Linked DNA regions of Homo sapiens: all the other regions are reported to be linked to region 1. Evidence: microRNA targets listed by miRTarBase, many of them from high-throughput screens and not tested one by one. Region 1 holds a microRNA gene; each other region holds the end of a gene's coding sequence.

Region 1 (7,117 bases):
GAGTCTCGCTCTGTGGCCCAGGCTGGAGTGCAGTGGCACCATCTCGGCTCACTGCAACCTCTACTTCTTAGGATCAAGCGATTCTCCTGCCTCAGCCTCCCAAGTAGCTGGGATGACAGGTGCCTGCCACCACGCCCAGCTAATTTTTGTATTTTTAGTAGAGAAGAGGGTTTGCCATGTTGCCCAGGCTGGCCTTGAACTCCTGTCCTCAGGTGATCCACCTGCCTCAGCCTCCCAAAGTGCTGGGATTACAGGCGTGAGTCACCACGCCCAGCCCAGATACTTTAAAAAGAGAATTTGGGCCAGGCACAGTGGCTCACAACTCTAATCCCAGCACTTTGGGAGGCCAAGGTGGGCGGATCACGAGGTCAGGGATTCGAGACCAGCCTGGCCAACATGGCGAAACCCCATCTCTACTAAAAATACAAAAATTAGCCGGGCATGGTGGTGGTGGGAGGCTGAGGCAGGAGAATCACTTAAAATCTGGGAGGCAGAGGTTGCAGTGAGCCGAGATTGTGCCACTGCACATCAGCCTGGGCCGCAGAGCGAGACTCCATCTCAAAAAAGATAAATAAAAAGTAATTAATTAATTAATTAATTTAATTTAAAGTGAATTTGCTCTTCTTTGGAGGCTGGACGTGATGACACATGCCTATAATCCCAGCACTTTGGGAGGCCAAGGTGGGAGGATCATTTGAGCCCACGAGTTGGACACCAGCCTGGGCAACACAAGGAGACTTTGTCTCCACAAAAAGTTTGAAAAAAAAAGCAGACTGTGGTGGCGCACACCTGCGGTCCCAGCTACTCAGGATGCTGAAGCAAGAGGATTGCTTGAGCCTGGGAGGTGGAGGTTGCAGTGAGCCATGATCGTGCCACTGCACTCCAGCCTGGGAGACAGATCACAACCCTGCCTCTAAAAATACACACACACACACACACACACACACACACACACATATATATGTACATATATATAATATCTCTTCTTTGGGAGCTAAACAATGGGTAACACACAGACACACAGGATGGAATAATAGACATTGGAGACTCCAAAAGTTGGGAGGATGGCAGCGGGGGTGAGGGTTGAAAAACTGCCTATTGGGTAGGATGTTCGCTATGTGCATGTAGAACATATCTCCTAAACATAAAAACATTTTAAGAAAGAAAAATATCTTCCAAAGTTTCAAGCCAGTAGCCCAGGGCCATAAAGCCTACTTTCTTATTCTTTCTTTCCATGTTCAAACACGAATGAGGTTTTTAAATCTGTTTTTCTAAAATGAGGCCATCTAACTTTCAACAAGCCTGTGGCACGAGGGTTAGCTGGAGGTAGGGGTGACCTGACTGTCGAGGTTGAAACCGGGGAAATATGGACAAACCAGGACAAGCCAGTATCCTGATTTGGAAGTGAACCCGGTCAGCAGGTGCCTGGGTGGGGTCTGTCCAGGAAGTCTTCCTGGAGTGGGGGTCCATGCTTCCCCCTTACAGTGGAGCCCTTGACATTTATGGAAACGGAGGAAGGACAGACATTTGGTTGGTAATTGTGTAGTATTTACACGGAAACCCTGGGAAAGTGAAAAAACTCGGCCAGGTGCGGTGGCTCACGCCTGTAATCCCAGCACTTTGGGAGGCTGAGACGGGCGGATCACGAGGTCAGGAGATCGAGACCATCCTGGCTAACATGGTGAAACCCCGTCTCTATGAAAAATACAAAAAAAATTAGCCGGGCGTGGTGGTGGGCGCCTGTGGTCTCAGCTACTCGGGAGGCTGAGGCAGGAGAATGGCATGAACCCGGGAGGCGGAGCTTGCAGTGAGCCGAGATCGCGCCACTGCCCTCCAGCCTGGGCGACAGAGCGGGACTCCGTCTCAAAAAAAAAAAAAAAGAAAAAAACTCGTAAGTGCTTTTCTCCCAGCTTGGAAGAGAGCATGCTCAGTGCCCGGAGTAAACCCCTCAGAACCTTTCGGAATTCTTTGCCAGTGGCAGTAAGCATCAGCCCCCATTGTCCAAGTCATTTGCTTCTTGAAATGGCTCTGTCTGATGACTGACCTGGGGCACAGTGGACTTTTCTGGAAGGCTGCTTACTGGGTCCCATCCTTTTGAACCACAGACAGAAACAGAGCTGCTCATGGAGGTCACCATGACCTCCTACGGGCCACTCACAGCCTCTACCAAGGACAGGGCCTAGAGGAGGTGCAGCTGCTGTGGCAGTGCGGGCTCCCCGCAGCTCACTACAACCCAGGCCTCGACCGCCTCGGCCACCTGGCTCCCAGCGTCTCCCCAGATCAGACAGAAGGCAGCTGGGGGAGCTACCCATGATTCACTCTCTCTCACCCCACAGCAAATCCATCAAATCCCGCCGCCTCTGCCTCCTAAATATATTCAGAATCCAGCCACCCCCAACACCACCCTGATCGCAGCCACCTGCAGCAGGCCCAGAGACTCCCACCTGGTCTCCTGCCTCCCCCGCCACCCCACAGTCTGCTCTCAGGATAGTAGCCACCCGTGGCGGAGACGTTTTATGGTGTCACGTTAATTCAGCCCACCAGGCGCGGTGGCTCGCGCCTATGATCCCAGCACTTTGGAAGGCCGAGGCGGGCAAATCACTTGAACTCAGGAGTTCAAGACCAGCCTGACCAACGTGGTGAAATTCCGTCTCTACTAAAAATACAAAAAAATTAGCTGGACGCGGTAGCATGCACCTGTAATCCCAGCTGCCCTGGAGGCTGAGGCAGGAGGATCGCTTGAACTCGAGAGGCAGAGGTTGCAGTGAGCCGAGAACGCGCCACTGCACTCCAGCCTGGCCAACAGAGTGGGACCCTGCCTCAAAAAAAAAAAAAAATTAATTCAGCCCACACCTCCACCAAAACCCTCCCAGGCCTTCCTGTCTCCAGCTGAGAGGCCAAACAAGGCCCTACCATGGGAGATGAGGACGTGCTGAGCCGCCACTCCCTTCCTAAGCCTGTGTCCACCTGGCTTCCACCCTCTCACCCTGCAGAAGCGGTGCTGGCCCGCAGGTTCCTCCTGCACTCAGCCGCTCTGGCCACAGGACCTTTGCCTCGCACTTCCCTATTTGGACATGCTCCTGAGCTAATGGTACTGTCTGCTGCCTCACTCCCCTCAGGCTGTCTCACTCCCCTCAGTCTTGGTCCAAATGTCCCCTGGAGTGACCATCCTGTGTGCAACCACAATCCTCCCTCCCGGTCCCTGACTCCCTCTCCCCTCTCTTTTTTTTTTTAGATGGAGTCTCGCTCTGTCTCCCAGGCTGGCGTGCAGTGGCGCGATCTCAGCTCACTGCAACCTCACCTCCCAGGTTCAAGCAATTCTCCTGCCTCAGCCTCCTGAGTAGCTGGGATTACAGGCACCTGCCTCCACACCCAGCTAATTTTTGTATTTTCAGTAGAGACAGGGGTTTCACCATGTTGTACAGGCTGGTCTCGAACTCCTGACCCCAACTGATCCGCCTGCCTCGGCCTCCCAAAATGCTGGGATTAGAGGTGTGAGCCACCTCGCCCAGCCCCTCCCCCTCCTCTTTCCTGAGTTATTTTCTTCTTGGCATTCACATCCATTGACACATGCAGCGTTCACCTGCTCACCAACCCAGGGAGGTCACCATGACCTCCTACCAGCCACTCAAAGCATCTACCAAGGACCAAGCCACACAGGCTTACCCCATTCACATGTAAGCTCCATGGCCGAGGTTTGTCTGTTTTGTTCACTGCCGCAGCCTCTGCACTTACATCCGCCCCTGGCCTACTGGGCACTGCTGAAAGGACCGAAGAGCTTATGGAAGTGACTTCAGTTGCATCATAAATGAGGGTAGGCACCCGCAGGACAGGGCAGCCCATCGGCCTTTCAATTACATTTCTTGCTTTTCTCTGTTCTTATTTCTTTCTTTCTTTCTTTCTTTCTTTTTTCTGAGACAGAGTCTCGCTGTGTCTCCCAGGCTGGAGTGCAGTGGCATGATCTTGGCTCAATGCCTTCCAGTTCAAGCAATTCTCCTGCCTTAGCCTCCCGAGTAGCTGGGATTACAGACACCCACCACCATGCACAGCTAATTTTTTTGTATTTTTAGTAGAGATGGGGTTTCACCATGTTGATCAAGCTGGTCTCGAACTTCTGAGCTCAGGTGATCTGCCCACCTCAGCCTCCCAAAGTGCTGGGATTACAGGCGTGAGCCACCGTGCCCAGCCTCTTCTTCCTTTTTTTAAAGACAAGGTCTCTTTCTGTTGCCCGGGCTGGAGTGCAGCGGTACGATCAAGGCTCACTGCAGCCTCAACTTCCCAGGCTCAGGCAATCCTCCCACCTCAGCCTCCCAAGTAGCTGGCACTACAGGCACATGCCTCCACACCTAGCTAATTTTTTAATTTTTTATTTGTAGGGACAGGATCTCACTATGTTGCCCAGGCTGGTCTCACTCTCCTGGGCTCAAGCAATCCTCCCACCTCAGCCTCCCAAGTAGCTGGGGCTGCAGGTGTGTGCCACTGCACCTGGCATACATTTCTCGCTTTTCTACTGAATTTCCTCAGCTACCAGATCCGCAGCCCTCCTCTATTCATGGGTTCGGAATGTTCCTCGTGCAAACGTCCCAGAGAGATTTAGCCCTTGCAGGTGGCTAGTTATCGTGATGCCTTCCACCCTCCTACCAGACGCTTCCTCCCCTGCTGCCTGGCTTGGGGAGCCTCCATGGAGGCTCAGAGGCTCCACAGCAGTGTGGACGGGTAAAGCCTCCAGCAAGGCTTCTGCCTCACTTGGACCACCTAGAACTTGCCGCAGGACCTGAATCACACTGGAGACCGGCTGCAGGAACTGTTCCAGGCATCAGTTCCCACTGCAGAGCCTGGGAAGGGAGCTGTCCGGCTCCCCAGGCTCTGCAGTGGGAGGTGATGCCCGGAACAGGCATCTCAAAAGTGTGGGTCACCACCCATTAGTGGCCTTGAAATCAATTTACTGGAATAAGACCAGAATCTTTCTTAATGAAATGGAACAGACTAGAAAACATCAGCATGTACAGTATTGTCTGAGGTGAAGTATTGTTTCAGGACATTTTTTGTCTAGGCATCAAGGCAGAAACTATCAAATCAGAATTTCTGGGGCATCAGGTTTTTTTTTTTTTTAGCTCCCCAGTTAATTCTAATGTGAAGCCAGGAACAGGAGCTGCAGGAGGGCGGTTCTGTCCTTCCGAGAAACAAGGCGTCCCCACCACGGCTGTGAGCCAGTGCCTGCCGCCCGACAGCCACAGCACTGTGGCACTGAGGACCAGCTTTCCCTGAAGTCCGCCTGCATCAAACAGGTCTACCCCATGCCTAGGCAAGACCTTCCTCTTTCTCACTTCCTTTTGAAAGTCCACACTTCTCAGGGAGCGGGGAGGGTACCCTCCCGACTTCCCGTTTGCCCCTGCCTGCCTGATTGGATCTTTCTCCACTGCTGTGGCTGGACAAGCCTCTGGGACGACTTCAGCAGCCTCAGGAGAGGACTTCCAGAATCTGATCGCCAGGGGTCAGTATCTCAAGCAGACAGTCACGACAGCAGACCAACTCCACCCTAAGAAAGCACAGTTGTCAGTCACCCCTCAAACAGAGGTAGCACCCCAGTGTCCTCACCAATGCAAGGGGCCACAGCCTCTGGGAAATCTGCTTCTTGCTTCTCTGGCCGAGGACTGGGGCATACAGGACCTCACTTTCTGACAAGTGAGTGTTGAAGCCCAGGCCAGGGGGAAGTGTGTTTTTGAACTGTCATGTCAGAGCACCTTCCGGAGCTACAGCTGGAAAGGCTGCTTGCGGAAGTGCCAGGACGACCAAACCCCGCTGCTCTTCAGACACCTTGTGGCTGCCCCAACCAGAACCTTGGATGCTCCTGGGGCCACGCCCCCTAGCTCAGACCCGCACACAAGATACCACCAAGACTCATACACACTGCCAGTGGGGAGCTACGGTAAGTGGGATGGTGTTCCACAGACTGGGGCTCCCTCCCTGTGTCCGTCTCCCTGCTGTCCTGGTCCACCGTCTCAACCGCCCAGCTGGAAATCTTGGAACTCTTCCCCTGCCGTCATGAATGATAGGCAATTTTTGCTTTTTGTTGTTGTTGTTCTGAGACTGAGTTTGGCTCTGTCGCCCAGGCCAGGGTGCAGTGGCAGGATCTTGGCTCACTGCAATCTCCGCCCCCCCAGGTTCAAGCGGTTCTCCTGCCTCAGCCTCCGGAATAGCTGAAATTACAGGTGCCCGCCACCATACCTGGCTAATTGTTCATACTTTTAGTAGAGACGGGGTTTCACCATGTTGGTCAGGCTGGTCTCAAACTCCTGACGTCAAGTGATCCACTCGCCTCGGCCTCCCGAAGAGCTGGGATTACAGGCGTGAGCCACCACGCACAGCCTGGGTATTGTCTTTATTTTAAATTACGCATGGGGAAATGCCATCATCTTTCAGCATTTAGGGTTTATAAGGATTTATTATTATTGTTATTTTTGAGACAGTCTCGCTCTGTCGCCCCGGCTGGAGTGCAGTGGCCACGATTTCAGCTCACCACAACCTCCGCCTCCTAGGTTCAAGTGATTCTCGTGCCTCAGTCTCCTGAGTAGCTGGGATTACAGGCGCCCACCACCACGCCCAGTTAATTTTTGTATTTTTAGTAGAGACAGGGTTTCACCATGTTGGTCAGGCTGGTCTCGAACGCCTGGTCTGAAGTAATCCTCTGACCTTACTCAGCCGTCCAACGTGCTGGGTTACAGGCATGAGCCACCGTGCCTGGCCTATAAGGATCTTAATGTGGCTCTGCAACTACTCATTCCAAAAGAAAATGACAGATTAACCAAGTAGAAGAATTTATGAAACACTTGCTACCACCAGGTCCAATATAAGCATGAGGTATAGACCGTAACTCAAATAGCTCTCCAAGTTACCATGCAGAAAGCATTCTGAGAACAAATGAGTGTTCCGGTCTGGTTATGGGACAAGATATGCCTGCAAGAGGTGCTATGTGCATAGAATCAATGGAAAAGGTGACAGAAAAGGCATGAACTTAAAAGGCGTGAAGAGACATCCAAACCCCAAGTTTATTGCAGCGCTATTCACAACGGCCAAGACATGGAATCAACCTAGGTGTCCAACAACAGATGAATGG
Region 2 (7,117 bases), not on the chromosome of region 1:
TGCCTCCCGGGTTCAAGGGATTCTCCTGCCTCAACCTCCCGAGTAGCTGGGATTACAGCTGCATGCCACCACGCCCAGCTAATTTTTGTATTTTTAGTAGAGACAGGGTTTCACCATGTTGGCCAGGCTGGTCTTGAACTCCTGATCTCGTGATCCGCCCACCTCAGCCTCCCAAATTGCTGGGATTACAAGCATCAGCCACCACGCCCTGGCCATTTTTTTTCTTTTTTATTTGAGGCAGAGTTTCACTCTTGTAGCCCAGGTTGGAGAGCAATGGTGGGATCTTGGCTCACTGTAACCTCCGCCTCATGGGTTCAAGTGATCCACTCGCCTCAGCCTCCCGAGTACCTGGGATTACATGCACCCACCACCACACCCAGCTCATTTTTGTATTTTTAATAGAGACGGGGTTTCACCGTGTTGGCCAGGCTGGTCTTGAACTCCCGACTTCAGGAAATCCACCTGCCTCGGCCCCCCAAAGTGCTGGGATTACAGGCGCGAGCCACCACACCCAACCAATATATCCACTTTTAAATGTATTCCTAACGATAATACCCTGCGAGGGGTAATACTGCATGCCGAGCTATCTTCCATTTGCTTTTCCAGACCAGCTTTCCACCCTGCCCTGTGCTGTGTGTCAGGAGCCTGAGCTTGCCCCATAGGAAAACCTACTGGGACCTGGCCCTCTACCAGAGACTGGAGGCAGGAGCAGGAGGCCGGGACATGGACCTCCCTGCCCACTCAGACTGAGGCTCACACCTCCAGTCCAAGAAGCCCTCCCCAGTGACTCTTCTCCCTGTCCCGATCACTGCTGCCTTCCCTGATCCTTTGGAGTCCAGGAGTAGAAACTCCACTGCCACCAGTTCCAGGCTAAAGGACCAACTGTCATTAACCTGCACTCTGCCTTTGCAAACGGTCCCTTTATAAACCCTCCTCAAATCCTCCTGTGAGCATGAAACCTGATTTTTTTTTTTTGGGTATGTTTTTGAGACAGAGTCTCGCTCTGTTGCCTAGGCTGGAGCAGAGTGGTGCGGTCTCGGCTCACTGCAACCTCCACCTCCCAGGTTCAAGCGATTCTCCTGCCTCAGCCTCCCCAGTAGCTGGGATTACAGGCGCCTGCCACCACGCCCGGCTACTTTTTTGTATTTTTAGTAGAGATGGGGTTTCACCATGTTGGCCAGGCTGGTCTTTAACTCCTGACCTCGTGATCTGCCCGCCTTGGCCTCCCAAAGTTCTGGGATTACAGGCGTGAGCCACCGCGCCCAGCGGAAACCTGATTCTTGACTTTACATTTTTTATGCCCATCTAAAGCAGTGGAGGCTGAGACTCACAGAGGTTCAGTCACTTGCCCAAAGTCACATAGTATCCTCTGGCCTCCCTGGCATGCTGCTGACACCTGCATTTTACGGCAGGAATCTTCTCACTGAGGTTCGCCTACACAGACTTCCCAAGGGACTAAGGCCAGGATAATTTCAAAGGAATCCATTTTCTGCCCAAGTTTCGCTACGTTCTCTCTGCTAAAACAGAACTGCCTGAGGACGAACCTGCGTTTAAAACAATTTGAATTCTCCTTTCCCGTCCCCCTTTTATAATGGGTCCTCCCCTTTACAAAAGAAAGGTATTTCTCTAGTGACACTGCCCAACAACCCCTCTAATTCCCACCTACAGGTCTGTGTGAACGCCGTTCCTCGGTATCCACAGCTACGAGAACGTAAATGGGAATAGAACGGGTAACCCGCTCTCACTGGGCAGAAGCCAGCCACGGACAGTGAATTATCTGGAAATGCGTCTCCCTGAGGCGCGTTTACAATACAAAACTTTATTGTTGTTTTATCATCCAAATGTGTATATATTTATGTTGTTTTGTGCAACTGTATACTGCCAATAATCACTTTAAAATGTTTAATACTTAGAGCGCTGGATCAAGGCAAATTCCTAACAACTTGACTCGGAACTCACACACGGCACCCATCCCGTGACAGAGCACCACCGGGGTGGCTGACAAGACTTCTGACCCCAAAACGCGGTTCTGCGGAGAGAGTGGGGCAGGACCGGGGAGCAAGGCGCCGCTCCCCACCGCCCGAGCGCTCGCTACTCCAGGGCCGCAGCGCTCGGTCCCGCCGGGGTTCGCAGCCCGGCAGCCCTCCAGGCCTCTCAGCTCCTAGGCCGGGGCCTCTCCCGCTCCCAGCGCCCCGGTACCCCGCGGCCCAAGCCGAGGCCCCTCCTTGCGCCCGGGCCGCGACCACCCCCCAGGCCCACGCTCCCCGCTCCCCGCTCCCGCACTCACCGGCTCGGGAAAGCACGTCACTTCCGGAGCGTCGCAAGCGGCCGACCACTTCCGGGGCCTTTTGGCTCCGGAAGCCCAAGGCTTGCCCAGTGCGCAGGTGCAGAAAACACGCCGACGGACCGAGAGGCGACCTTGTCCCTGGTAGCGGAAGCAGGAGCAACGGCAGGAGGGATGCGGAGCGCTCAGCTGCAGCCGCGCTTCTCGCCGGCGCCCTCGCTGCCCGAGCACAAGGACAGCCGCCCCGCCCGTTCCACCCGGTGCCCAAGGTCCCCCAGCTTCTCTGACCCCTCCGGCGTTTGCGGAACCTCCCGGGTCTGACGAGGACACCGCCGTTGCCCGAGGAGGCTACGGGGCAACGCAGAGCAGGCAGTGGGGACCGCAGGGCAGCCCCGGGGCGCCGTCCCCACCGCCCTTACCCTGGCTTCGCCTTGCCGCCGCGGGGAATCCGGTGCGGACGCACGCGAACTCTGCCCGGGAGCCGAGGTGACGATCTACCTGGTCTCGGTAATAAGTATTTGCAAAACACATCACACCAAAATCCCGTTAACTTCATGAAAACTCACTTTATAGGATGATTTTTGAAGAACCAGTTTATTAAGAGATTACACCAAAAGCATAAACAATTTATACGTCAAACTCCGACTGAAAAAAAAATAACCGATAAGGATGTTTTTTAAATGTACTGTACTCACAAATAACAAGACAAATTTGACCTGTTCAATAAATAGAAATGAAGTGGCTAAAAATGTTTAAATGGAAATGGAAAACAGTCGTCTTCTTTGTACAGTTTTGAAGGGGTGCCCCCTATTCACGCCTACACGTAGAAAAACCCTGACAAAATCAGAGGTTCACTTAACACTCCAACCATATGAGCGTATTAAGGTTTCTTTTCAGATCTTAGGAGATCTTGTCCACCTTAATCCCATTCACAGATCTTAGGAGATCTTGTCCACCTTAATCCCATCATAAAGACTGTTGGCATGAGTTCTGATGTACTGTTTTAATATGCTGAGTACTGTTGATTCAACAACAAACCTTAATGGGTGATGAGCTTTTGCATACCAATATGAATTTGTCAGCACTTCTGAAAACTGGCCATCATTTTTCAAATTCACAATTTGCTGGATGTCAGGGAACAATAGGAAGAAGAATGAGCGTCAATTTTCATGTCTTCCTTTGCTTCTTCACTGGCCTTCCATAGAAGTAGTCAGAAAAAAACAAAGCACCATCAACCACACTTCACAAACAATTCATGTTGGCCTAAGCTTTGCTCAACATTCATATGACAGAAGATAGAATAATGAAAAGGAACTGCTGGCATCACTTTCCCCATAATATTACATAAAAATGGACAGCACATTAAATAAACATTCTGTTATTAATCATTAAATATATTAACACCAAAAATCATGTATAAATTAGGAAATAAATGTACAAACTATTTTGCAAAGTGCTTTTTAAAATATATACACAACATTCAAGATATTCTTAATGTAAGACATTTCAGATTGAAGTTTTGGGGTAAGTGTCCTTTTCTTTCAGAAAGTATTATTAATACAGCACTTAAAAAAACACACAAACACACAAAAAAGGCATATTCCCAGATTGGCAAGGAATAAAAATAAACTATCTTCACAGTTATCTAAAATGTTTAACATTTTCAGTGGGAAATTTTAGTCCCCGATTGAGTTTGCAAATTAGGTCTATGAAAATTGACAGGAAAAGAACACAATCAAGGGAGATGACTCCCTAACTGAAATTGCTAACGCGTTTGTCAATTAGCAATTAAGAACTCTCATTTCGGTGATCGAATATGAACACATACGTTTATTTTTGAGCCCTTACCAGTGTTAAGGGTTTTAGAAACCCTTAGTGCCTACAAAATAAACACTTCTCTCCCCATTTGTGCGTGACATCCGTCTCCTAGGAGAGGGGAGAATGTCCTAGAACAGGACTGGTATTCAACACAGGCAAGTCCTTTAATCTGTGCCTCAGTTCTTCATCTCTAAAATGGGAACTGTTACCTGCCTCCAGATTTCCTCATAGGGGCTGTCAGAATTAATTCAAGCAAAACACATAAGTGACTTATAAATTCTAAAGCACCCGACTCTGGATAAAGAATTAATTTTAACTTATTTATTTATTTATTTATTTATTTTTTTGAGACGGAATTTCACTCTTGTTGCCTAGGCTCGGGTGCAATGGTGCGATCTTGCCCCACCACAACCTCTGTCTCCTGGGTTCAAGCCATTCTCCTGCCTCAGGTTCCCGAGTAGCTGGGATTACAGGTATGCACCACCATACCTGGCTAATTTTGTATTTTTAGTAGGGACGGGGTTTCTCCATGTTGGTCAGGCTGGTCTCGAACTCCCGACCTCAGGTGATCCGCCCGCTTCGGCCTCCCAAAGTGCTGGGATTACAGGCGTGAACCACCACGCCAAGAATTACTTTTAACTTTTAAAACAAAACATCAATTAAAGAGAAATATCGTTATTACTAGGCCTCATATATCAAGCATTGGATATCTCTTGTATTTTCTTGGTAGTTCTTGGAAATCTGTCAGCATTTATCCAAAGATTTTTTTAAAAGGATTCATAGCAAATATGAATATTATTATTCCAACTAAAGGTTGATCAAATGTCCATGCTACTTGTTAATTGAAATGTGGGATTTTTTTCCTTTGACCATACTTTTGCAAGTGTGCTGTCTTTAATGTTCACACAGAATTTAAATGGGATTTAATGTCTTAGAAATGTAAAAATTACTCAAGTTTCTCTATATAAAACCTTTACTTTTCATTAGAAAGAACACAGTAATGTAACTGGATGTGACTTTCAGACATCCCTAAAAGAAAAGAAATGCTTGCTTGGAGATCTGAGCAAGTAGGTCCTGGAAGAAATAATATAAAATAAACAACTTGCCAACTGTTGGGAAGATTTGGTTTGAATATTTAAAATTACCTATCAACTTAGAATTGGGCTTATTAAATATTCCAATCCCAGAAATGACCATCAGCTAAACAAGGGTCAAAGCCAGAGTAATCTCTGAGGGCCCACTTCCCAGAGAGCTGCCCCTTTCCTTCAGCAATACCGCTGGCCCTGGGTTAGGCAATTTGTCCACGGCCCTTAGGGATTCATATTTATTTGGAATACAGTCACTGATCCCTGTTTACTTTTTAATACAAAAACATGTACCTTTTTGGATAAACGGAATTGGCGAGAGACAGGCAATGGGCAAGCTCTGGAAGTGGCCATCTGTGGCCTCTCCCGTGGGAGATGTTTATCCTTTTCGTTACGTAACAGAAACTGACCCAACGCACAGAAGATGCCCTCCCACCCACCCCATCGAGGCACAGGAAGAGGCTGCCCTCCAGGGGCTGCATGTGTGTCCAGCTGTGGCGTAGCCAGTTAAAGAAAAGTTGACAACCCACACTACAACACTGCATGAGGAGGAAAATGAGACCTAACGTCTGTTGACGGGAACAGGTGGACTGTGGTGTCCTCGAGATCTGTCCTGTCCCTGGGCACAGAATGCTCTGATGACAAAATGACCCCCAAAGCTAGCTAGAAACATTGAGAAGGGGGCGGGGGACAAAAAAAGGATACCTCTCCGTGTACCGACATACAATACTATACACAGCACCAAAAGTATCACACCACCAAGCGCTGTCTCACGCCAGTGGTGTGCGCTCGGCGTCATACCCAGCATGAAATGAGCACGCTTCACATGCAGACGTGGCACTGGGCGAACAGGTAACCAACATGTCACAATTCACCAGAGCTGCCGCCAGCCCATCCGGCCCCTGGATGAACACGCTACCACAAGGGCTCCAGCCAGAATGTGTGTCCCTTACTGCTGGTAATTTCCATACTGGCCCTAAAAGAGATCAAGACACAGATTACACCCCTATAGTAATGAGTGAAAGGAAGACAGACGTCCACCCCAGCCCGGACAGGGGGTAGGAGGGACAACAGCAAGCAAACAACCTCTGCTCACATCTCTGCGGGGCAGCGAACGACTTTCCAGAAGCCACTGGCCAAGCCTGGGGCTAACAACGTAGACAGGGCCAAAGGTTCATTTGTTCAGTCACACACTGGCATCGCTGCGGCCGGGCCTGTGCCAGGCCTGGCATCAGAGCCTTATGCTGGGCCTGCTATGCAGGAAGGCTCTCCTCCAAGCTGGCCCCACTGGGAGCCAATGCAAACACCATCTGCCCCCGAGCCTGCTACAGTAAGAAAATGGGAGCGGGGACGACCAGGGTGATGGGTTTCAATCTATAAAAAAAAATCTAAAGACCCAGGCTGGGCAACATGGCCAGACTCCATCTCTACAAAAATCCAAATATTAGCTGGGTGTGGTGGCGTGTGCCAATAGTCCCAGATACTTGGAGGGTGAGGTGGGAGGATCGCTTGAGCCCAGGAGGTCAAGGCTGCAGTGAGCCGTGATTGCACCACTGCACTCTAGTCTGGGTGAGACCCTGTTTCAAAAACAAATCTGAATTTGGGAGGCCGAGGCAGGAGGACTGCTTGAGCCCAGGAGTTTGAGACCAGCCTGGGCAGTACAGCAAGACCCCATCTCTACAAAAAAAGAGAAAAAATTAGCCTCGGCCAGGCACAGTGGCTCACGCCTGCAATCCCAGCACTTTGGGAGGCCGAGGTGGGTGGATCATTTGAGGTCAGGAGTTCAAGACCAGCCTGGCCAACATGGTGAAACCCCATCTCTACTAAAAATACAAAAAAAAAAATTAGCCAGGTGGTAGTGGCACGTGCCTGTAATCCCAGCTACTTGGGAGGCTGAGGCAGGAGAATCACTGGGCCTGAGAGGTGGAGG
Region 3 (7,117 bases), not on the chromosome of region 1:
TGACTCTCCTGCTCCTCTCTTCTCCCTCATTCTTTTTCAACAGCTGCAGAGAACTCTAAAAGCACAGAAGGGCCATGATTTATTTGGCCATTCCCTGCTTGGTGAGTATTTGGGTTGTTTCCAGTTTTTCTCCATTGCAGACAAAGCTTCACTAGGCAGCCTCAAACACACACCCCTGCACACACTCCCTGGTGCACACATGCCTTCCTGAGTCTAGATGCCTAGAGGTGGAGGATTGCAGACGAAGAGGGTGGGCACCATTTCATTTCTAAAGTAGGACAAGACAACTGAACATCCCCCCATGCCTCAAGATGGGGGCTCACAGGGCCAGTGACGAGGAAAGGCTCTGTCCCTTCATCACCAACACTTGTGCCTTTCTCTTCCTCTTCAGGTACAAGGTGACCTGCCAAAGCTCAGAGCTGGCCAAGGACATCCTGGTGCCCTCCTTTGACCCTAAGAATAAGCACTGTGTGTTTCAAGGTGACCTCCTGCTCTTCAGCTGTGCAGGCGCCCACCCCAGGCACCAGAGGGTCTGCCCCTGCCGGGACTTCATCAAGGGCCAGGTGGCTCTCTGCAAAGACTGCCTATAGCAGCTACCTGCTCAGCCCTGCACCATGCTGCTGGGGAAGACAGTGGCCCCAGCCCCGTCAGGCAGGGCCAGGGACAGAAGTCATGCAGGGACTCTGGCAAGAGCCTGAACTTTTTCGTAGAAGGTTCTGAATTGGCATTGCCCTTGCTGCACTCCGAGCAACCCAGTGGAGTCTTCACCAAAACAAAACAAGAGCGTATGTCAGGCCAGGAGCCTGGCTTGTCCCTGGCACAACATCATTTCTGTTTCTCAAGGAGCAACTGTGGGAAGACTGTCACTGCAGCTGCTCCAGGGCAAAAGAAAGTCTCAAGAGTCCTTTAAAACAAAACAGGAGGAATTGAGCTGATGGGAAAGAACTCTGAATGGGAATATTCCTAAACCCATTAACTTATTTATTCGGGTGGGAGGGAGGGGACCGCGGGAGGGAGAGGAGGGATTGATCACAGGCTTCTTTTATTTCCACTGTTAATCATCCACCTTCACTATACTGTTGTTCTGTCTGCTTTGGGCAGGGTGCAGGAGAGAGACCGTGTGCCGTGGGGCTGGTGGCCTGCTCAGGGACAGCCATGGGGACCTGGCAGCTCAAAACAGATGGCAGCAGAACAAAAGAAACTTTTGCTTTGGAAGCACAGCCAAACTCCCCAGGGCATCGTCATAGATGGCACCTAGAGCATGGGCTGCCTCAGTCAGGGGGACGTGCCTGTGTTGTCCAGAGAGCCCAGCCAGGGACGAAAAAGGAGATGAGGCCCCTTTCCTCCATGTCCCCATGCCCAGACACATACCTTGGCCGTAATTTCTTTTAGAATCCCTTTGGGAAGGAAATACAGGATTGAGGGATTTTGGAGTTTCTGGTAAACTCACCCTCCCTCCAGCCCCGCTATGAGGAGGAAAGTAGAGATGAAAGACTCACGCTGTTCATGGACTTGGAGAGGATTATCTTTGAGCCAAGATTTGGACAGGAGTGAAGTCGGTCCTTAAGAATTTGTGGCGCGACCGGAGCTGGGCTCCTGACAGGTGGGCTTGTGTTGTGTCCCCTCTGATGGCACCAAAGTCCAGGGAAGGGGGCTCTTGATGTCTGCTGGGGGAGTGGGGGCAGCTCAGGATGAATGCAGTGCCCTGTCCTGGCTACTCACCTGAGGGTGTAGCTCGCAAAGGTGGGAATCTGGTGCTGGCTTTTCCTTCAGGCAGGATCACTCTGACTTGTTGAGTAATCAGTCATCAGGTTGGCCTGGTCAGACACACTGGACCCCACCTTCCAAACCCTGGACCCCCCCATGCTCTGCCTTTGTATAAGTTCCCACCCCACTGAATCATTGCTGCCATGCTCTGTACAAGTTTGTAAGTTTCTGAAAAGCCCCTGACATCTCCATGCTGATGCAAGTGAGACCCCTTCTGCCTAATGTGAGCGGTTGGCGTCCTCCACTTGGCCTCTGCTGGGCGCCTCAGTCGCTCAATGATGTGCTCTGTGCCGGGGCTTCCAAGCACCCTTCCTGCTAACAGAGGGCGGCCCAGTGGAGCCTCCGCTGGGCAGAACTGATGGGCAAGGCGTAATGGCTGGTAGCTTTCAGAATGTGAGGGAAAGGAAGAATTCCGCTTCATGGGGACTAGAGTTAGTGTGGGGCCTTTAAGTCTGGGAAGTTACATTCTGCTTCTTTCTCAATTGCTACACAAATGTGCAGCCAGCCTTTTTTCTTAGGCCCACTGAGATCCCTGCTCAGTGCGTCTCAATTGTATCTCCAGTCTAAGAGGAGGGTGGGGGGCACCCGGGGCCTCCTCCACTCCTTAGGTGGCCCCCAAGCACATCTGCCAGGTAGAGTACCATGGGGAGGCCTCTGCCCTGAGCATCATCACAGGGGCGCCTCCAGACCTGGCTGAGAATAGCCTCTGCTTGGGCCTAGGAAGAAGGGCAGAAGTCCAAAGGAAACCTTGGTGAGTGAGTGTGTGTGTGTGTGTGTGTGTGTGTGTGTGTGTGTGTGTGTGTGTGTATGAGCCTGTGCATTTCTTTTAAGCAAGGGCAGTTTCCTGCAGTAGGAGGGCAGATGACTGGCATCCTTGCTGTAAGGAAGAGCTTTTTCCTTGTGAATGGGCCTCTTGGCTGTACCCTAGGGTGTGGGAATTTGCTAGAGTTCCCTGACCTGCAATCCCTGGGCCAGTGCCGCCCTCTCCTGGGCTCTTCCAGGAGCATTGAACACTGAGGATGTCAATGCAAGTATCTGACCAACAGGGGGAGCCTGCAGGCCGAGCAAAGTTTAACCCACTTAGCCACTGCTACTTAAGCAAGGAAGCTGAAAGGTAACCTTAGCCCTGCCTTGTGTTCCAAAAGCTGCAAGGATCATTTGCTGGCTGTCCCTAAGTTCAAGGCCTCCCTACCTTCCCCTTCTTTTCCAAGTCACAACCCGCCCTGCCCGGGCCAGACAGCCCAGAAGAACACTTTTCTGCCATTTAAAAATCCCTCTTTCATCCCCCCCAGTCCAGTATTGAGTGGAAGTGCGCCGGAGTTCCACTGACAGGGCAGCTGCTCTTGGAGCAAACAAGCCCACACTCCAGTTGTTTAGGGCATTATCTGAAGAGTCAGTGACCCCTGAATGTGTACTGGCTCCCAGGCCTCCTCAGACTTGGCCCAGGTCTAGTCAGTGATCCTGGAGAGGAAACTGGGGAGGGGGCTTCCAACTGCCCTGCATGGAAGAGGAGAGGAAGGTGCCCCTGTGTGGGCTGGAAGCCTGCGGAGGTTTTGCCATTGCTGATCTTGATAGAATCCTAAACCGATTTATAGCTGATAACAGTTCCATGGGGAGAGAAATCCTAAGTTATGATTAATGTTTTTCCCCGCTATAATATCTTGCCTGTTTTTTTGGATTATTTTCCCCATTGTGATCCTAAGCTCTTAAAAAACTTGAGGGAAAACATTCATCTAATTTACTAAAAGAGAAAGCTTTCCATTGAAAGGTAGATACTTTGAGGAGTAAAAAGACTTCTTTGAATGCTGGTAAACACCGCATTTATTTTGTGTATGCAGTTTGATTTGCACATGTATAAATGGAGATGCTTTTCATTTTTGTTTGGACTGGGTTTGTGTCACTGCTCATTACAGTTTGCTTTTTTGTGTGTTTGCTGTGCGTTTGGAGATATTAGTCAGTTTCTTTAGTGATATTTGTTTCCTTGATGTGCCTTTTCGTTTTTCTTTGGGGTTTTTGGAATCCGGATGCTGTTGAAGGGCAATAGCAGACTCCTCCAGCTAAGAGACAGGACATGTTCTTGAGCCACTGTAGCTGTTGAAGCTGGACACCAGACGCTCCCTATAACCCCCCCGCCAGGCCATAGCGTGTATGCATGTGCACTTCCACCCACAGAGGAGGGTGTGAAGCCTTGAGAACCTCAAGAAAGGGCTGGATTCTGCCATACCTTTGGGTCTACCTTGGGACTGCTGGTTGCCAACGTGTCAACCAGCCTGTGTTCCCTGCCACCCACGCACTTGCTGAGGTGTGGCTGAGGCAGAATCATGTGAATGGGTGCATCCAAGGAGTTCAGGGCCCTGCTTGGAGAAGAAATACTTTAGCATCATGAAAGGGAAAGAACGTGCACCCCTTTTTTGTTTCTTTAGTGAATGCAAGATTTAATAAAAGTGAATAATGAGCTTCCCCTTTGGGAGTGGAGCCCAGTGCAGCTCACTGACAGGGTTGACATCAGTATGATGTGTTGGACTGAAACTGTATGTCTGTAGGTAGGTGTGTGCCTTTTAGGGCAGACCACGGTGGCCACCCCATTTCTCCAAGGTGGTTTACCTAGCTTGTGTATATTAGACATTGCCACCCTCACCTCTGGCCAAAAATTCTTGATTTAAAAAGAAAAGTCTATTTTGTTAACGACAGGCTCTGTTGTATGTGTTACTATCCCAAGCCTGGATTATTTTATTTATTTAAAAGTATTTTAATTTCCATATTGGCTTTATTCTAATCCCATCCATCCCTGTGGAGCTGCAGAGCATCTTCATGTGAGTAGACGGATGGACATAAATAGATTCATGCTCATTTAGGAAGCTGGGAGTTTCGTGAAGCTGAGGGTGAGTTCCTGTGATTCTTGTTCGCTTCAACAAAAAGTGGGAGACCAAGTTTTTATAGCAAAAGACCAAATTAGCTGTAGAGTCTTGAATGCAGAAAAAAATTACCCTAGCTTTCTTAGCACTTAGGGTTTTGTGAGGATTCAGTGTTTAGCACAGTGCTTGGCACATAGTAAGCCCTAGTAAATGTTAAATATTGTTATTAGTGTTTCGTAAAACTTGAGAAATAGAGCTGAGCTCATTCCCTTCCTGTTGATTCAAAAATAATACCTACATGAAAACATGATTCCAAGTTGATTGAATGTTGTAGGAATTACTGGTTTAGAGTAGCCCAGTTCTCGGCCTACCCTGCTGGTTGGGATCTTACTGTATTCTTGAATGCACTGGTTTGAAAATATGCCAGACTTCAGCCCCCAAGGAAACAAGGCTGCAAGAATTTATGAACTCCAGCTGGAAAAGGTAAAGGTGACCTTTGGCTAGCCACATACTGGACCTTACCCCACTGACGTCTTTCAGAACATTCCAAGGGTTTTCCTCAAGGAACATTTTTGAGCTAGAAATTAAAATGGGTTCTCTGGCAGACTGCACCCCTTGAGTCAAAGTTAACAGTATTCCTTTGAATGCAATAATAGAGGCTTTTCTGCGTTAAGGGAGAAGGAATGACCAATTGAACTTACACATTCCCCAGGCAGGTCCCTTTGCCGGCCCCTACAGGCTGGGGTGGCCCCTCCTGTCCTCAGGGATCAGACTCCCAGACTGGTTAGTTCTGCATGTTTCCATCAAATTAAAGGTTATTCCCTGGCCGCCTCCTGGAGAAAACCAACCCCACCCTGCCAGCTGGGGGCAATGGGGCAGGGATTTTGGCCTCTCAGAACAGCTCCTAGAGGCTGCTCATGACTGAATGTTTTCCCAAATCACCTAAATATCGGTTTGCTTTTTGTTTTGGGGGAGAGGATTTAGCCTCTTACTTCCCTGATGGATTCAAAGTTTTATCTATCTCCTTATCTCCTGCCCTGTCTTGGCACAACTCTGGATAGATTGCAGGTGTGGAATTTGCTGGAGTTTGGTGACTTCGTCAAATTCCTTTGGATTCTGTTCCGCCAAATCAGCAGTCTCGTCCTGTGGATGCAGTGACTGGAATTTCCCATCTGCAAAGCATCTCTGTAGCCCAGATTTTGTGGAGCCTTAAGACACTCCCTCAATGCCACCCTGACCCCACGGCTGGAGAACCCTGTGCTTATGTGGTGGGCAGGGCCACTGTTGATGGAGGATGGCGGGGACGGGGTGGTGCTCAAAGGATCTGTGGTGCTGGAGGTCTACACGCCTCTCAGGACAGCGTGTCAGGAACCTCAGAGCAGCTTCACATCTGCCAAAGCTGAGAGGGAGCGAACTTGGGAAGCATTTTGCTCATTGTCCTACCCAAGTATTAATAGCATAATAGTTGATGCCAAAGGAGATGGTGACGTCCCTTCCACTGTAGTTGCTGTCACAACCTTGACGTCTTTAAGCTAATGGCCGTTTGCATCTGTGTCTTCAAACAGATCCTGGTTACAGCCATTTTGTGTGATTCACTTCGGGGGTTAAGTAATGCAGGATTCTGCAAACAAGGTGTCGCCGTCCAAATGTACTGTCCTGGCATAGAGAGCACTGCTTTGTTTTCCACTGTTGTAGAGAAAACTAGGGAGAACTTTATTTTTCAATAAACTTTTCTTGTGTGACAGGTGGAAGTGATTTTTGGGGGGGCGGGTGCATGCAGGGTCACCTCCAGAACAAAGCTGAGCTGCTGTCTAGGCGCGTCCCCAGCACACAGCTTCCCCCAGCTGTATTTCACGGTTTGCAGCACACTGTTGAAACGGCTGGTAGGAAGACAGGAAGGTATACTTAAGGAGTGGAGAGGGGAAGGTTTTACTACTGTGTATTCCTTCCCTTATATCACATCCACCACTACTCATGTTAGCGCACTCTCCTTGTGCTGCCTTCCCCTAGAAGGAAATTCAATTAGAAAGTGAACTGCTAGATTTTGAGAAAAATCTTTAAGAATGAGCTAATAAAAATAGCTCTATAAGGGGCTGAGCACCAGCGACCATTGGACCTAGAATAGATTTCTCCCTTTCAAGAGCAGCTTTTGAGCCAGGAAGCAGTGAGCCATGAGCAGCTGGTTAGGCAAATGCCCTGGAGACAGGGAAGGTTAGTCCATGCCCCACCCAACAGTTTGTCTGCAGATGACACTGGCCCTCATCTGCATGGCCTCTCTGAAGCTGGCGGGCCTCCTGGCTACGGCCCAAAATGGACACCCCACACAGTTCACAGAGCATGTTAGAACACAAGGGAAAGCCGAGTGCCTACATTTGGGCAACGCTACCAGTGTCACTTCCCCTCCCTGAGCTTCCATGATGTATATTAGACACAACGAGAAAACCAGCAGAAGAGAAACCTACAGGCTCCTACACTTCCCAATCTTTTTTTTCTTT
Region 4 (7,117 bases), not on the chromosome of region 1:
CACATCTTATAAAAATAACCACAGAAAATCAGTCTGTTACCAGTCACAGTCGAGTTTTAAGGGACACAGGTTGAGCAGTGGCATAACCAGACCCTTCCGTTAGGCTGTGGTAGCAAGAGCCTGCTATTTAAAAAGTCTTACTCCTCATGAGCTGAGTGGACAGTCTTTTATTTGAATATAAAAACAACTAAAAGTGCTTTTATAAATATGGATGTTAGTTCTGAAATCTTGGGAAATGTGGCAGACTGCCACGGTTACTTGAGACATCTCTACGACAATTACTACTGTTACTACTTGAGACCGTCATTACGAGAGTTAACGAAGGAAGATGAAAGCAGAAATGAAAACTTAAAACAAAAGTAACTATTTTAAAGGAAGGGAAAGAAGAGAGCTCCCTGCTTCTAGTGAGCAAAGGCAACCGCCCGAGCTGCTACAGCCCTTCATATTTATTGGGTAGAAAGAGCAGGGATTAATTGATCACAGGTTCACATTATTGCTAACAGGCTTCAGATGTGTCTAATCACAAGAAACACTTGTGCCTGGGTCGTGACTGCCTTCAGCGTTCCTTCTGGGCAGCAGACGCAGTTTGTCAGTTTGCCAACATCCTGCTTTCATGAGAAACAGTTTACTGTTTACTCATAGAGCCTCCAGTGGTATACTGAGTTGATCATGACGCTCATTCTTTCGGCCTTCAACAGGGAAGGTCATTTACTCCATCCAGCTTTGGTTTCATTAAGTGTAAGATGGGGATAATGTCTGTCCTACCTGCCAGGTTCACAGGATCATTTCAGAATCAACTTGAGGATACAAAAATTCTGAACTGATTTACAAAGGCTCGGGATCATTATGCATAAGCGCACTCTGCAGTTGAGCTGACGGAAGCCCTGCAGATCTGTCTCACCTATTCTCTTTGCTCTCTCTGCAGTTAATCAGGATGTGCTCTCATGGAGAAGGCAAAATTAACTACTATAACTTTGTTCGTGCTTTCTCAAACTGACCTGCTGATGAGAAAATGCAAGACAATTTTTGATACTGGAACTATGCTTTGAAATACACCTTACACTCTTCATAGAGGCATTTACAGGGTTCCTGAAGTTTTATTTCTGTTTTGGTTCTTCTTTCACTCCTACTGAAGTCGAAACTAAATTGGATCTAATAGGATCTAAGATTGGTGCCTTATTTAGGGTGATAGGGGTATAGCAATGTCTAATTTTGTGTGTCAAATTGACTTGGCCACAGGGGGCCCAAATATTTCCTTTCTTTCTTTTTAAAAAAATAAATTTTTTTAGAGATGGGATCTCACTCTGTCATACAGGCTGGAGTGTGGTGGCACTATCCTAGTTCTATGAAGCCTCAGACTCCTGGGCTCAAGTGATCCTCCCACTTCAACCTCCCCAGTAGCTGGGACAACAGGCTCAAGCCACCATGCCCAGCTAATTTTTAAAATTATTTTGTAGAGACAAGGTCTTGCTAGGTTGCCTGAACTTGTCTCAAACTCATGAGCTCCAGAAATTCTCCCACCTCAGCCTCCAAAAGTGCTGGGATTATAGGCATGAGCCACTGTGCCCAGCCTCAGATATTTCATTATTCTGGGGGTTTCTCTGAAGGTATTTTTCGATGAGATAAACATTTGAATCAGAAGACTAAGTAAAACAGATAGTCCTCCCTAATGTGGGTGGGCCTCCTCCAATCATTTGAAGACATGAGTAGAATAAAAAGGCTGACCTTTCCCCAGGTAAGAGAATTCCTCCTGCCTGACTGGCTTCAAATTGGAACATCAGCCTTTTCTTGCCTTCAGACACAAATGGAAACATCAGCTGTTGGTCTGGAGCCTGCTGACCTTCAGACTGGACCTAAACCATCAGCTCTCCTAAGTCATAGGCCTTTGGATTCAGACTGGAATTATACCTTTAGCTCTCCTGGGTCTCCAGCTTGCCAATTTACCCTGCAGATCTTGGGACTTGTAAGCCTTCATAATTGTGTGAGCAATTTCTTATAACTCTCTCTTTCTCTCTCTCTACATATATATATATATATATATTTTATATGTACACATTCATACACACACACGCTTATATGTATACATATAGTATGTATATGTGTATATATATTATGTATATACATATATGTGCACACATCTCTACTAAAAATAGAAAAATTAGCCAGGTGTGGTGGCGTGTGCCTGTAGTCCCAGCCACTCGGGAGGCTTAAATGGGAGAATCACTTGAACCCTGGAGGCAGAGGTTGCAGTGAGCCAAGACCACGCCACTGCACTCCATCCAGCCTGGGTGACAGAGCAAGACTCCATCTCAAAAAAAAAAAGGTTAGAAAAATGCTGCTTTTAGAGAGCCTGGCCTTGAGAGAGGAAGGAAAGACTAGTTGCAGTTACTATTCTCTGGTGAGCTCTGACTGGCTTTTTACAAACAGGGCTTCTCTTTGGTTGAAGTCAGCCACTAAGTTCATCTTTAAACATGCTATCTCAAATTCCCCGAAGCCACCCAAAATGTGGTATGAATGAGGATAGAGTTACACAGAATTCAGACTGCTTTGCCCTCTCAGAACTTCTAGGGAACTTCCCTTGGTGTTTCCTTCCCTAACGAGCTCAGCCACTTGTAACCAGCTTATTGAAAGGGCTGTGAATGTATTATGTTGATTCCTTTTCTGTTCCAGGTTATTATCTTGGGAATAACCCATGTTTTGTTTTGTTTTACCCTCAGTCGCTCATAACTATTTAAAACAGTATCTCTTTCAAGTACAGATGCTCCTCTACTTATGGGGCTATGTCTCAATAAACTCACGTAAGTAAAAAATATCACAAGTTGAAAACACATTTAATAACCCTGATAAGCCCATTGTAAAGTAGGCAAATAAGTTGGACCATTGAAAGTTGGGGACTATCTGTATTTTAGAAGTTTTTTCAGCTTAAAAATTACCAAGCTCTATCCTACTTGGCCCAGCTCAGTCCTTCCCCCAGGCTTAGAAGCCTGTGGTAAAGAGTGTGTGTATACTGGGGTGATGATAGTGGTTTCTTCTTACTCCCTTCTTTCTGTCTTCTGCTCCCTTTGTTCCTATTCAGCCATGCTGCTGTTTCTAGCCCATGTAGGCTCTGGGAAAGGTTAAGCGGGTAGAAACCAGAGAAAAAGGGCAAAGTCTTATTTCTGTGGCTAGTAATGTCGTAATGTGGGGCCAGGTCTGAGTGACATGTGCCGAAAGGCTGACTCTTTCTCCCAGAGCACCTTTTCTCTCTTTTTGGATTCAGGGGGTACATGTGCAGGTTTGTTACATGAGTATATTGCACCCAGGTAGTGAGCATAGTGCCCAGTAAGTAGTTTTTCCACACATACCCCCTCCTTCCCTTCCCACTCTGGTAGTCCCCAGTGTCTATTGTTCCCATCATTATGTCTATGTGTATTCAATGTTTAGCTCCCACTTAGAAGTAAGAACATGCAATATTTGGTTTCCTATTCCTGCATCAATTCACTTTAGGATAATGGCCTCCAGCTGCATCCATGTTGCTGCAGAATACATGATTTCATTTTTTATGGCTGCGTAGTATTCCATGGTGTAGATATACTTCATTTAAAAAATCTAATCCACCATTGATTGGCACCTAGGTTGATTCCATGTCCTTTGCTCAGAGCCCCGTTTTGGTGAGTTCTTAGAACTCTTTCCAACCGGAAACTGCCCAGTGCACCACTCTCAGATGGACGGGACCCAGTCTGTACCTGATCACCCCGGCTCTAATGGTATGGTCTCCAAGGCTCCTTCTGATCTTCCCAGGAGGCCCTTTCAGGCTGACACACCTTCCAGGGTGTGCACTCTCGCCATGTTCTCACCCAGATGGCTCTCTTGGCTGTGTAATTAGGCAGCTCAATCCCTTTCCTTTAGACTGTTTCAGGGGAGAACCAGGTACCCCAAATCTTATGCTCTCCAAACTCCAGGGGACAGACACATGTCAAACCCTGAGTCTTTTAAAGTATACCCTCACTTAGCTTGCAGACCCAAGGCACTCCAGCCCCTTTCAAGAAGCTTGCACTTTCTGATATTTTCTCCATCACTCTTGCCTCCTGTGGTAGAGGAGCTTTGGGCTACTCCTTAACAAATCATTCATGGATCGGCAGCAAATCTGCAACATATGGATATATTTGCCAATTTTTGTCCTCAGCTTTGGGTCTCAGCCAAAATGGAGATTTAGGAAAGTCTCATTTAGCATCCTCTAGCCTGCTTTTGGCTGTTTTGTTTTGTTTTTGTGTTTGTTTTTTAGAGACAGGGTCTTACTCTGTTGCCAGACTGGAATGCGGTGGTGTGACCATAGCTCACTGCAGCCTCAAACTCCTGGGCTCATGCAATCCTCCTGCCTCAGCCTTCTGAGTAGCTAGGCCTGTAGTCTCAGAGGGAACTGTCTTCAATAAAGTTGGCACTGTCCACATACACTCCTTAAGTTTGCTGTCCACTTCTTGCCTTGCATCTCCTTTTAAGTTTACTTAAGACTGAGAAGCTGAGATCTGACAGCACCAACACAAGGTATAAAAGAGATTTCATGAAAGACCAAAGCCAGCAGGCCATTTCTGTGGTGTCCAAACACTCGCTGCTCACCTGTTTATACAAAGCAGCAAGTATAGGAGCCACAAACGTCAGAGCAAATCACTTTTTCTACTAAAATCCTGAATGGCAGTGCAGCCATTAGATGTCACTAATTACCTTATGCTACAGTCATAGCTGGCATGCATCTGGAGTGTCAGGTTCAGGTGGTGGAAGGGAGCTGAGCATTACCCTGTAGCAAGCAATATTGTAGGAAGCAGAAATGATCATCACTTCAAACTGGCCACCAGGGAGTTGAAAGATTCTAATACACACACACACCCACACACACACACACACAAAGAGAGAATGAGAATTATTAAGATTAGCACTGGTAGCTGAAGCTATCAGGTCTAACTGAAGCATTTGACTAAGACTGCTTATAGTGCTTACGGCTTTGGGACTAATAAAAATCTGCCTTGCGGGTAAAGATGGGCTGTGAGTTAGCCACTACTCAGAAACCTGGGCCTGTACCTTGTCTGCACCATCAGGGGGCCTTGAAAATACCATCCAATTAAGGTGTATCAAATCCATATCTATAGGCTTTGAGGGTATTTGGGACACATAGGTAGAGAAGACGTCTCTAAATGTTGTCCAGAGAATCCACTTGGTTAAGTGACTCCTGAGTATCCTGCTGGCACATAAGTTCATTTTAAAAAGCCAATATGAGTGCTTTATATGTACCATGAACTTAGCATTCAGTATCTCTAAATCTCTCACCATGACTCCCCACAAAACATGAAACCCTTTTGACACAGATGCACAAAAAGACTCGGAAGGGTTAACTGCTTGAGTTCACCTAGCTTCTCATGGCAGAGCAGGACCCAACTCTACAATGAAGCTTGCCATGCATCAGAACCACTCACCTTCACCTCAAGCAAACATTTCCTCTTTCTCACACCCCATGGGTGTCCTTGACTAACTGCCACCTGTAACTGCACTCATCTTTTGAGATCTTTTTCCAAAGAAAGATGGTTCTGGTAAACACAGCAAGCAGCTACAGCCAACAGCAGCCATGTAAGTGACACCAGCAATCCCCACTATTACTAATACTTGGATGTCTTCTAGTCAGCACCAACATATTTGTTGGCCTTTACACAAACGAAACCCCATTTCCTCCAAGCTAAATAACATCATAGTATAGTAGGCATCAAGGATGATGTGCTTGTTTCTGGAGCTTCCTACCCACAAACCCCATGTTAAGAAAACCTCTTTTCCACTTTACTATTAAAGAGTCAAATAAAAATGATGCTTATTGCTATCCAGCACTTGACATAACTGACTCTCCATCCTTAATTCCCTAATTCATATCACAATGGACAAATACGGGTCAAAATATATAAGAAATGACTAATATAGTGAAAAATAATAGACATGAGGGCTAAAATTCATTGCAAACTCCTTTAAGCAAACGTAAACATCCACGTTAAAAGCATCACTGTATAAAAGCACGTCAAGGAAATAATTATGAGACAATTCTGATAATTTTCTGCCTTTTATTGTTATTTCAGAAAATATTTGATCATTTGTTCCAAAATGTACATTTAAAAAATCCATACAAAACTGTAATTTGTTTTAAAACCAGACAGAAACAGTGGAAAAATGATTTTGAAAAAAAGTTCACCAAAAGCAAAAAGACACCCCTCCCCCCAACCCTTTTTTACATGAAAGCATAAATACGGCAGGTACAAATTTTCCTTGAGTTCCTTGTTGAAATTTGGTCCATATGAACAGGCTAGAGTAGAAAACAGACACTTTGTCCACATTTGCATTATCAGTTGCTCAGGGCACCAGCAGCCTTAGTTCATCCTTCAGATGTTTTTTTAAACAGAGGAACCGAAAAATGAGGTTTACAGTCTCATCACATGAACACTCAAATCTGTACCCAAGGAAACAGCGGTATTATATTTACTGTCACAGCTAGACCCTATCAGGTGAACAGGGCTCTCCACCTGCGGCTGTTGCTTCGCAAAATATCCTTCCTCTCCACGTGAACAAGTAGCTCTAGAGTGCTTTTAGGCAGAGTGACGGTGATGTCATGGGCACCACGCCAATCTTATTCCTGGACAATGACTTAAGCCCCATCGTGAGAATGGTTTTTTCCTCTTCAACACATTTTTTAAAAATAGACCTCTAAGATGATGCTACATGTTCTAAAAGAGTGCCACAGAAACCCACCCAGGATCACAAGAATGACAACAAAAGGAAAGTGGCTATTTCTTGTGTAAGGGATGACGACTCCCCCTCCCATGGGTCCCATTTCTCCCCCAGTTGCAGGTGTTTTAAGGGACAGAAAGGCTGTGGAAAGGACCACTGGCTGGGAGAGTTATTGCACAACCCGGAAGAGTGAGAAAAACGTGGGCGGGCAAGGGGTAGGGGAGAGGGTTGCTGCGACTAAAACAAGGTAACACTGAATTAGGAGCTCGAACAGTTCTGCAACAGTCAGACATGTATGTGTTTATGTGTTAGCACTTGGAGACTGGGAAGTAAAAGTAAACACCTTTATCATATAAACTTTGGGCTGAATGGGAAGCAA

What was found. The annotated mature microRNA hsa-miR-3155a reads CCAGGCUCUGCAGUGGGAACU and lies in region 1 at 4,819-4,839, opposite strand. An mRNA with a match to its seed (bases 2 to 7 or 8) in the 3' UTR can be bound and repressed. Matches are read on the target gene's strand: a 7mer-m8 pairs with bases 2 to 8, a 7mer-A1 pairs with bases 2 to 7 and ends in A, and an 8mer does both.
Region 2: miRTarBase lists SS18L1 as a target of hsa-miR-3155a. Seed matches in the 3' UTR shown: 7mer-A1 at 4,639-4,645.
Region 3: the mRNA of MGAT5 is a reported target of hsa-miR-3155a. Seed matches in the 3' UTR shown: 8mer at 691-698, 7mer-m8 at 800-806, 7mer-m8 at 2,577-2,583 and 7mer-m8 at 2,817-2,823.
Region 4: miRTarBase lists EFHC1 as a target of hsa-miR-3155a. Seed matches in the 3' UTR shown: 7mer-m8 at 1,829-1,835 and 7mer-m8 at 2,347-2,353.

What each region holds. Positions count from the first base shown.
Region 1 is chr10:6,149,969-6,157,085 of GRCh38, reverse strand. It overlaps MIR3155A (microRNA 3155a), which reads right to left and starts at 4,890; the gene lies at 4,809-4,890. MIR3155B (microRNA 3155b) reads left to right here and starts at 4,824; the gene lies at 4,824-4,879. It also overlaps a transcript of PFKFB3 not described here. RefSeq lists an enhancer at 5,471-5,520.
Region 2 is chr20:62,178,228-62,185,344 of GRCh38, reverse strand. SS18L1 (SS18L1 subunit of BAF chromatin remodeling complex) reads right to left here. Exons shown (of 11, transcript NM_198935.3): 11 at 2,831-6,163. The coding sequence ends at 6,137. MTG2 (mitochondrial ribosome associated GTPase 2) reads right to left here and starts at 2,317. Exons shown (of 7, transcript NM_015666.4): 1 at 2,288-2,317. RefSeq lists silencers at 2,099-2,268, 2,275-2,459, 2,499-2,688.
Region 3 is chr2:134,448,258-134,455,374 of GRCh38, forward strand. MGAT5 (alpha-1,6-mannosylglycoprotein 6-beta-N-acetylglucosaminyltransferase) reads left to right here. Exons shown (of 16, transcript NM_002410.5): 16 at 392-6,364. The coding sequence ends at 590. Among named protein-coding and RNA genes, the nearest start is that of MGAT5, 200 kb to the left of the region's middle.
Region 4 is chr6:52,491,345-52,498,461 of GRCh38, forward strand. It overlaps EFHC1 (EF-hand domain containing 1), which reads left to right. Exons shown (of 11, transcript NM_018100.4): 11 at 926-5,854. The coding sequence ends at 997. TRAM2 (translocation associated membrane protein 2) reads right to left here. Exons shown (of 11, transcript NM_012288.4): 11 at 6,064-7,117. Among named protein-coding and RNA genes, the nearest start is that of EFHC1, 75 kb to the left of the region's middle. RefSeq lists a silencer at 6,470-6,671.